Linked DNA regions of Homo sapiens: region 2 is linked to region 1. Evidence: fine-mapped expression QTL. A gene starts in region 1. The other region holds a variant in brackets. All regions are shown on one strand. Distances are from middle to middle. Region 1 holds the start of CXCR6 (C-X-C motif chemokine receptor 6). Region 2 has its middle 6.5 kb from the start of CCR9.

The links. PIP is the estimated chance that this variant, and not a neighbour inherited with it, causes the effect. A credible set is the group of variants that fine-mapping cannot tell apart.
Region 2: its variant is the best candidate, but not a certain one, in a credible set for the expression of CXCR6 in whole blood (TOPMed, PIP 0.85).

Annotation. Positions count from the first base shown.
Region 1 is chr3:45,941,439-45,945,438 of GRCh38, forward strand. CXCR6 (C-X-C motif chemokine receptor 6) reads left to right here and starts at 2,026. Exons shown (of 2, transcript NM_006564.2): 1 at 2,026-2,102. All of the region lies in intron 14 of FYCO1 (FYVE and coiled-coil domain autophagy adaptor 1), which reads right to left.
Region 2 is chr3:45,877,756-45,882,287 of GRCh38, forward strand. It overlaps a transcript of LZTFL1 not described here. Among named protein-coding and RNA genes, the nearest start is that of CCR9, 6.5 kb to the right of the region's middle. RefSeq lists a silencer at 2,534-2,690. The variant G/T (reference allele first, on the strand shown) is at 2,012.

The DNA.
Region 1 (4,000 bases):
TTCCCACCCTTAGGAAGTTCAAAGTTTTGTTTCAAATAAAAGTAATGCCCTTAAAACAATTAACACTATAAATTGGCAGATAGTAAACGGCATTTTGTAAAGTGATTAAAATAAAATTTTAGCCCCAAACCTGCAAGTGGCTCAGCTCCTCAAATTTAGGTGAAAGTCTTTTGTACTATAGAGAAGTTTCTATTAAAGAATGGCCACGATAAACAAGCCATGCTTTCTCAAATACACATATCCCCATATTGACATGTACACACAGTCATGGAGGGCCCCAGGTGCTGGCTTGTTTTTCCCCATGGAGTAGAAAGGCTTGCTGAGAAAAGCATGGCCAAGGGTGCTTGACAAGGCTCAGGCCATTCTAACACTGCCCTATGGACCTGTCTTGAATGGCATGGTTGGTTGTCCCTGGGTAAAACTCAGCTCTCAAAGCTTAAAGATTCCTAAATGTCAGGCAGGGTTACATTAAATTGCCACCCTGCCTTGAAAGTTCTCTTTCAGGAAGACAGGTGCATATTTGGCTCAGTCTGTTCCTTTATTCATTTGTCCACCATTCCCTACATCCATCTGTCCATCGGTATGTAGTCTATGCGGCCTCATGGTTCATGCCCATAAGGAACACCTCACTCATTTGTACCAGTTTGGTAGAAAGGACAGTCTGAACGAATTCATTCAAAAAGGCCTGCAAACCTACTAGAGGTCTTCAGATCTTTTATCAGGGCCCCCTGGCACAGCTCCATACTCAGAGCAGGGCAGGAAGCACTGGCTTTGCAGCCTGACAGTCCTGGGTGACTGCCAGGGATGTGTGTTCTTGGGCAAGTGGGCTAATCTCTCTAATCTTCTGTTTGCCTATCTGTACGTGACTAGGATTAGATGGCTGTACATAGAAGCATCCAGCATAGGGCCAGGCTTGCGGTAGAAATGAGTGTTAGTCTCTGGATCCTGAGGCTGCTCCTGGTCCCTGCTCCCAATGCTTGACATTTGCCCTTAGGAAGAGCCACATGAGAAGGTTTGCCTAGCAGGTGGGAGAGAGCAACAGCATTGGAGAGAAGCAGCCTGAATGGGAGTGCAGAGCCAGAGAAGGCAGGCCAGGCACCTCCACAAGAAGGCAGCTGCTTCTGGGAAAGCAGACATCGAGTCCATGCCTCTCCCTAGTACCCTCTCCACTACAAGGCACTGGGGCATGTGACCCAGGCTGACATGCCTCCAATTCCTGCCTTCCAGCGTTATTTCCCAGAAGGGTCAGTAATGTTAGATCATGGAGACTGACAACTAGAACTGTACTGAGATCAAAGTAGTCAACATCTGGGGAATTCCAGGAGTACAGAGGGCAGCCCAAGGAAACCAGATGATTCCAGCCAGCCTACGCAGGGTGGGTGGGCACTGCCTGCTGAGTGCCTGAGTGGTGTGGGCTTAGGAGGTGGGGCTGCACCAGGCCCTCTGGCAGACCCATCATCATGCTGTTGATTGGTCTGGTAATGACAGATACCTGAGTGTGTATCTTCGATTTTCCAGTTTCTAGCTGTGTGCACCAGGGCTTGTTATTTTGGCTATGGTCCTCAGTGTTCTCATCTATAAAGGCAGGATAATATCCACTGCAGGGCTGCTATGGGGCTTAACAGCTATCACATATGCTGGAGCTGCATATGCACGCAGAACCCAGCCCATACCATGGACTCAGCATTGGCCCAGACCCTAACTGTTCCAAAAAGATGTCTGACTAGTGAATTAAGTAATTTTAAGGTACAAATGCCACCATCTTCGGTGGATGGCCAGAGCCAAACCTCCTTATTGTTCCCCTTTAGTTTACGAATAAAGCTCGTCAGGCCCTGACAGAAGAATCAGCCCCAAAGCAGAATGAAGGGAGTGTGGGGTATCAGTCACCCATCCATCTCTGACCCACGCGTTACACAGGGGCGGGTTGGTCATATGGATTCTGATCTGAAGGACGGGAGTAGGGGGTGGGTCTCTTATAGTAACCAGCTGAGGGCTCTTAAAAAATGTTCAGCGGAAACATGAACCACATCACAGAAGTAGAGGCAGACCTTGCTTCATGAGCAAGCTCATCTCTGGAACAAACTGGCAAAGCATCTCTGCTGGTGAGTCATTTGTTTTACTCTTTATATTGAAAAGAAGACAGGGAGGACTAACCCCAGGTATTGTTGGTATTCTCAGATTCCTGTCTGTAGTAGGGTACAGTGCAAAATGCCAGGCTATGGAGCTCAGCTGCTCTTCGTTCAAATTCCATCACTGCCATTTGCTGCTGTGTGGGTTAAACTGGAGAAACATGAAAACTACTGAACATGTTTCCAGGCACACAGTTAGTGCTTGCAGGCTGATGGTACTGCTAGTAATGGCATAGTCAGACCCACCCAGGGAGATAAGGAGAATCTAGTTATTGTCTATATTTGCTCAATGAATAATCTCTGTTTTCATTTCTTTTGCATAAGACAGGCTGTTTTATCAGATTATCATTTATGTTCTTTTTTCAATATAAATCAACATACTACTGTAGAAACTTTGAAAACTATTTTAAAAAAAGGAAGAAATAAGTCACCCATAATTCCACCAGCTGGAGGCCAACTGTTAATAAAATGTGATCATTTTTTCCAGGTTTCTAAAAGTACGGTCAGTTAAAATCACATAGTTTATCATGAACTCTTATGTGAGGGCCCACAGAATACATGGCAGAAGGATTCAAGGGGTTCATGGACTCCCAGAATTGTAGGGGTGTTTGTGTGTGTGCGTGTGTGTCTGTGTGTGTGTGTGTGTGTGTATATATATATACATTATTTCTGAGAAAAGGTCTGCAGTTTTTAGGAGATTCTCAAAGGAGTTTATGGTCAAAAAAGGTTAAGAATCACAATTTTATATCCTTTTGACATCTATTTGTTGTAATAGTAATAGTTAATACTTATTTTGCATATTTACTTTGTGTTTACACTGTTCTTAGCAATTTAACTGTATTGCATTTTCCAAAATCAGTAAAAATACTTCCTAAACATTTAAGTATATTCTATTTTATGTATGAATTGTAATTTGCTTCATCATTATCAGACTTTTACACTACTTCCAAAGTTGTAGATTTTTTTTTTAATTTTCAGAAAACAAAATAGGATTTTAATTATAGAGGATAAAGAAATGAATGTTTTTAGTTCGCCTAGAAGGGAAAGTAATTTTTCATACTCTATTTGCACAGCACTGTCCAGGCCCAATCTGTTTACCAATTATTATACATCAAAGTTTACCAATTATTACACATGAATTTGCACAGGTCCTTTGAGGAAATGTGTAATGGCAGCATAAGGGACCAGCAAAAGCTGGAACAGGAAGATACCAAAAAAAGGCGAGAGCGAGTCAAGCAATAATGGGGAGCTGAACATTATTCTTAAGAGCAAAGCCACCTGTTTCATATTTTAAATGATGAAAAAATATGTTTTTGCCCATGTGAATCAATAACACATACACATCATCTGACCTACTTAATACAGTGCCCCAGAGAGCTTGTGGGGGGCAGGATGTCTACTGGCTGACCTATCACCCTTAGAGATCTAACAATTGTGACGTAAGGGCAAGGATTTTTATTAAGCAGTCTTAGCCCAAAGGCAGCATCCTTCCTTGCTAGAGAGAAAGGGCACTTTGGTCCCTGGAAAGACAGAGGCAAGCAGCAGCATCGGAGACACTGCTCCCAGTCAGGACTCAAAGTCAGCGACAGAAGTGTTTCTGAGTGGATTAGGAAAGGTAACCTCATCGTTTATATGCACTTGTCTGGTCAGGCAATATTTTGACTTTGCTGGCAGAGATTCTGTCCAAACACCTGCTCTTCTTCATACATCTTCTAGAGGTGCTGGCCAGACATGGCTCCAGGTCACTGGAAATGAGCTGCTGCATGTTGAGTATCTGCAGTCCTGTAGCAAGGGCAGACTTGGCACTCATGGGCTGATGTTGCCGCAGCTGCCCCTGCTCCCACACCACAGGTTACATGATCCCTTGTCCT
Region 2 (4,532 bases), 63 kb before region 1:
TTTCCTGAGACAGAGTCTAGCTCTTTGTTGCCCAGGCTGGAGTGCAGTGGCTTGATCTTGGCGCACTGCAACCTCTGCCTCCCAGGTTCAAGCAATTCTCTCACCTCAGCCTCCTGAGTAGCTGGAATTACAGGCGCCTGCCACTATGCCTGGCTAATTTTTGTATTTTTAGTAGAGACAGTGTTTCACCATGTTGACCAGGCTGGTCTCAAACTCTTGGCCTCAAATGATCCACCCGCCTCAGCCTCCCAAAGTGTTGGGATTACAGGCATGAGCCACCGCGCCCAGCCCATTTACTAGTTTTTAACTGACAAATAATAATTTTATTTATGGGGTACAATGTGATGTATCTACATGGTGGAAAGATTAAATTAAGCTAATTAGTATTTTCCTCACCTCACCTACTCATTTTTCTTGTGGTGAGAATGTTTAAAAATCTATTCTTTCAGCAATTTTGGAATATGCAAAACATTATTATTAACTATGGCCAGCACCAGCCCGAGGCCTGAAGCTTTCCTCTGGGTCTCCCTTGCAGGGGCCTGACCTTTTGATGTGATTGTTTTGATGTGGCCATTTAGAAACTGAGGCTATTTTCATGTAGCTATTTTGATGCTGTGGAAATTTTCTGACTTTTCAAAAACTAGCCACTGAACTTTCAGCTTTTGAAAAAATGATCAAGTGTTAATATACTATAGGGCCAGGGACAGGGCAGGGGTTGGCGCTATGGACAAAGTGGGGCAGGGTGAGGCTGGGGGATGGGGCCCATTTCTAATGTAATTTCTTATTTAAAAAACTAAACATGTAAAGTTCTGATTTTTAGGGTCACAAAGGCCCTCAAGTAAAAAAAAAAAAAAGCCCCTCTATGAAAGACACTGTTAAGAGAAGGAGAAGACAAGCCCCAGACTGGGAGAAAGTATTTGCAAAAGACACATCTGATAAAGGAATGTTATCCATAATATACAAAGAACTCTTAAAACTCAACAATAAGAAAATAAGCAACCCAATTAAAAAACAGGCAAAAGACCTAAAGAGATACTTCACTGGGCCAGGTGCAGTGGCTCACGCCTGTAATCCCAGCACTTTGGGAGGCTGAGGCGGGCAGATCACGAGGTCAGGAGTTCGAGATACTTCACTGAAGAAGATATGCAGATGGGAAATAAGCGTATGAAAATACATTCGACATCATAGGTCATTAGGGAACTTCAGATTAAAGCCACACACCTATTAGAATAGCCCAGGCCCTAAACACATAGCACCAAATGCTGGTAATGATATGGAGCATCAGGAACTCTTATTGCTGGTGGGAATGCAAAAAGGTACAGCCACTTTGGAAGACAGTTTGGCAGCTTCTTACAAAACTAAACATACTCTCACCGTATGATCTAGCAATCGTGCTTCTCAGTATGTACCCAAATGAGCTGAAACTTATGGCCACACAAAGATCTGCACACAGATGTTCACGGCAACTTTATTCATAATTGCCCAAACCTGGAAGGAACCAAGATGTCCTTCAGCAGGTGAATGGATAAATAAACTGTGACACATCCAGACAATAGTTTATGTTATTCAACACTAAAAAGAAATGAGCTAGCAAGCCATGAAAAGACATGGAGGAGCCTTAAATCCATATCAGTAAGTGAGAGAAGCCCATCTGAAAAGGCTATATACTGTATGATTCCAACAAATACGGCATTCCGGAAAAGAAAAACTGGAGACAGTAAAAAGGTCAGTGGTTGCCAGGAGTAAGGTGGAAGAGAGGGACGAATAGGTGGAGTACAGAGGATCCTTAGGGCAATGAAACTATTCTGTATGTTATTTTAATGGTGGATACATGTCATACATTTGTCCAAACCCACAGAGTGTTCAATACAAAGAGTGAAACCTAAAGTAAACTACTTTGGGTGATAGTGATGTATGAGTGTAGATGAACTGATTATAACAAATGTGCCACTCTGATGCAGGATGTTGATAGTGGGAAGGTGGCACATGTGCTGCGGGAGCGGGTATATAG[G/T]AACTCTCTGTACCTTCTGCACAATTTTGCTGTGAACCTAAAACTGCTCTAAAAAACAAAGCCTATTTAAAAAACCCAACATTATTAACTGGAATTAATGATAAAAATATGTATTTAAAAAAACCCATAAGCACTTCTCAGTGAATAATGATGGTCATCACTAGAAATGTTCCCTGGGTGACGTTTAGTGTGTGTGTCCTCCTTCCATCAGGGGTGGCAGGAGGGAGGGATGTAAGCACCCTGAATCTACCATGATGCCTCCGTACAGGCAGAGGTCCAGAGAAGGGACAGTGACAGGCAGAGCTGAGGGTGGATCCTGCGGTGGCCTAGGCCAGCCCAGCCAAGGCAAGGCTCTCATTTAGACGTTTGGTTCTGGTGCCTGCAGAACCAAAGGTTTTGCTGTTTTTTTGTTGTTTCCCATGCAGCAATCAGTGATCTGTTAAAAATGGAAATCAGGCTAGGCGAGGTAGCTCAGGCCTGCAATCCCAGCACTTTGGGAGGCCGAGGTAGGCGGATCACGAGGTCAGGAGTTTGAAACCAGCCTGGCCCACATGCTAAAACCCCATCTCTACTAAAAATACAAAAATTAGCTGGGCGTGGTGATGGGCACCTGTAATCCCAGCTACTCAGGAAGCTGAGACAGGAGAATCACTTGAACCCAGGAGGTGGAGGTTGCAGTGAGCCGAGATCACGCCACTGCACTCCAGCCTGGGCGACAGAGCAAGACTCCATCTCAAAAAAAAAGGAAATCGGATCGTGTTATCACCTATATAAGTCCTTTGGGTAGCTTTCTGTACACCTGGCATCAGGTGAAAACTACTGGCCCAGCCTCAAAGCCCAACATGCTCGTGCCCCTCCAAATTATCTGGCCGCCCCTCACTGCAAGCTGTCCTCCTGCCTGTTGGTCTTTCTCATCCTTGGACACGTCAAATTCTTCCTGCCAACTGTTCCCTCTGCTGATAATGGCTGCTCCAATCTTCACATTGATGGGAACTTCTTGTCACTCAGGCCTTAAGTGTCACTACTGTAGTGGGCCTTTCCCAGACCATCCAGTGTGAGGGCCCCCTTCCCACGCCACTCCCTCCATCACCTCTGTCTGTACTGATTCTCTGCATGGCATTTGTCGCTATTTAATGTGCTCTGTCTTGCTGACTGCTACATCCAACCTCTTAGAACAGTGACAGCAAATAGTAGGAGCTTGACAAGTACATGTTGAATGAAGGATTCCAATGAGATCTTCCAATGAGATAATGCGTGTGAGGGCAGAAGGGATGATTTTTATCATTAATAGATGAGACAAATAAAAATAAAAAATCCTCTGACTGGTCTCATGACTCAGGTGCTGCAAGCACAAAACCTCAGGAGTTGAGGATGACACATATTTCCCTTATAAACAGCTTGTATTCTGCAGCAGCTTGGCAGCCACACCACTGAACTCTTGACCTCCCCTCTGAGCTGCAGTGGGGAATATCTAACGACCTGCTAGACACCTTCACTTCAACACCTCAGCCATATCACATCCAGTGCTACATGCATCACTATCTGCCAAAACCAACATTTCCTCCCACACACTTGCTCAGTTAAAGATACCCAAGTCTTCCCACAGCCTCCAACTGGTTTTGTTCTCTTCCTCCTGCAACATCTCATCATTTGGCAGCTCCTGAGGGGCACTTGGCCATGTCTGTCCTGTCCCTCCCATTCCTGCTGCTGCTGCAGGGTGCGGGCCCCCTCCTCCTCTCTCTCTCTCACTCTCTGAGAATTGCCTCCTAGCTGACACCGCGACCTTCAAGGGCTATTCATGGTAACTGAATTTAGCAAAAATGACTACTTTCTCCTCATTCCTGTCCTTTAAGGGTTTTGATTACTAACTGCGACACACGAAGAATGTGTAAAAATACTTTTAAGGGACCTTGCCCTTAAAAGTATCTACAGGTATTCTAGAAAACCAGTATAGCTAAAGCCTGCCCTGGCTTGAGTGCTACTGGGGAAGGAAGAGCTCAGCCTCACACCCTTCACCCCCTTGCAGAAGGGAGTGAGTCTGCCACAGGCCAGCTGCCCTGGCTTGCATCATAATGTGAGCTATCTAAGGCTAGAGCCGAGGTAGAAATATTAGCTGCTGAATAGCAGGTTGGTCTGGACCTGTACAATCCACTAGGGTGGCCACTGGCCATGTTGGCTGTTTACATTTCCATTTAAGCTAATTCCAATTAAATAACGATTTTAAAAAGATCACACTAACCACAGTGTCATGTTCACTAGCTATATGTGGCCACACACTGGACAGATAGCTATAGAATATTTCCACATTGCAGAAAGTGCTATTAGATGGCTCTATTCTAGATCCTCAAGACTTATATCAGGTGAATTTTTTGCATTAATTTAGTCAGAAGATGTTTAATATTCTCCTAGAATGTGCTGCTGGGCTTCAACCATGGCCAGTATCCACATAGTCCCTTTCCTCATGGATTAGTGGGGAAAAAAGGGTCCTTGCAGACTTTATTCCTTGGAAATTTGGACCTAG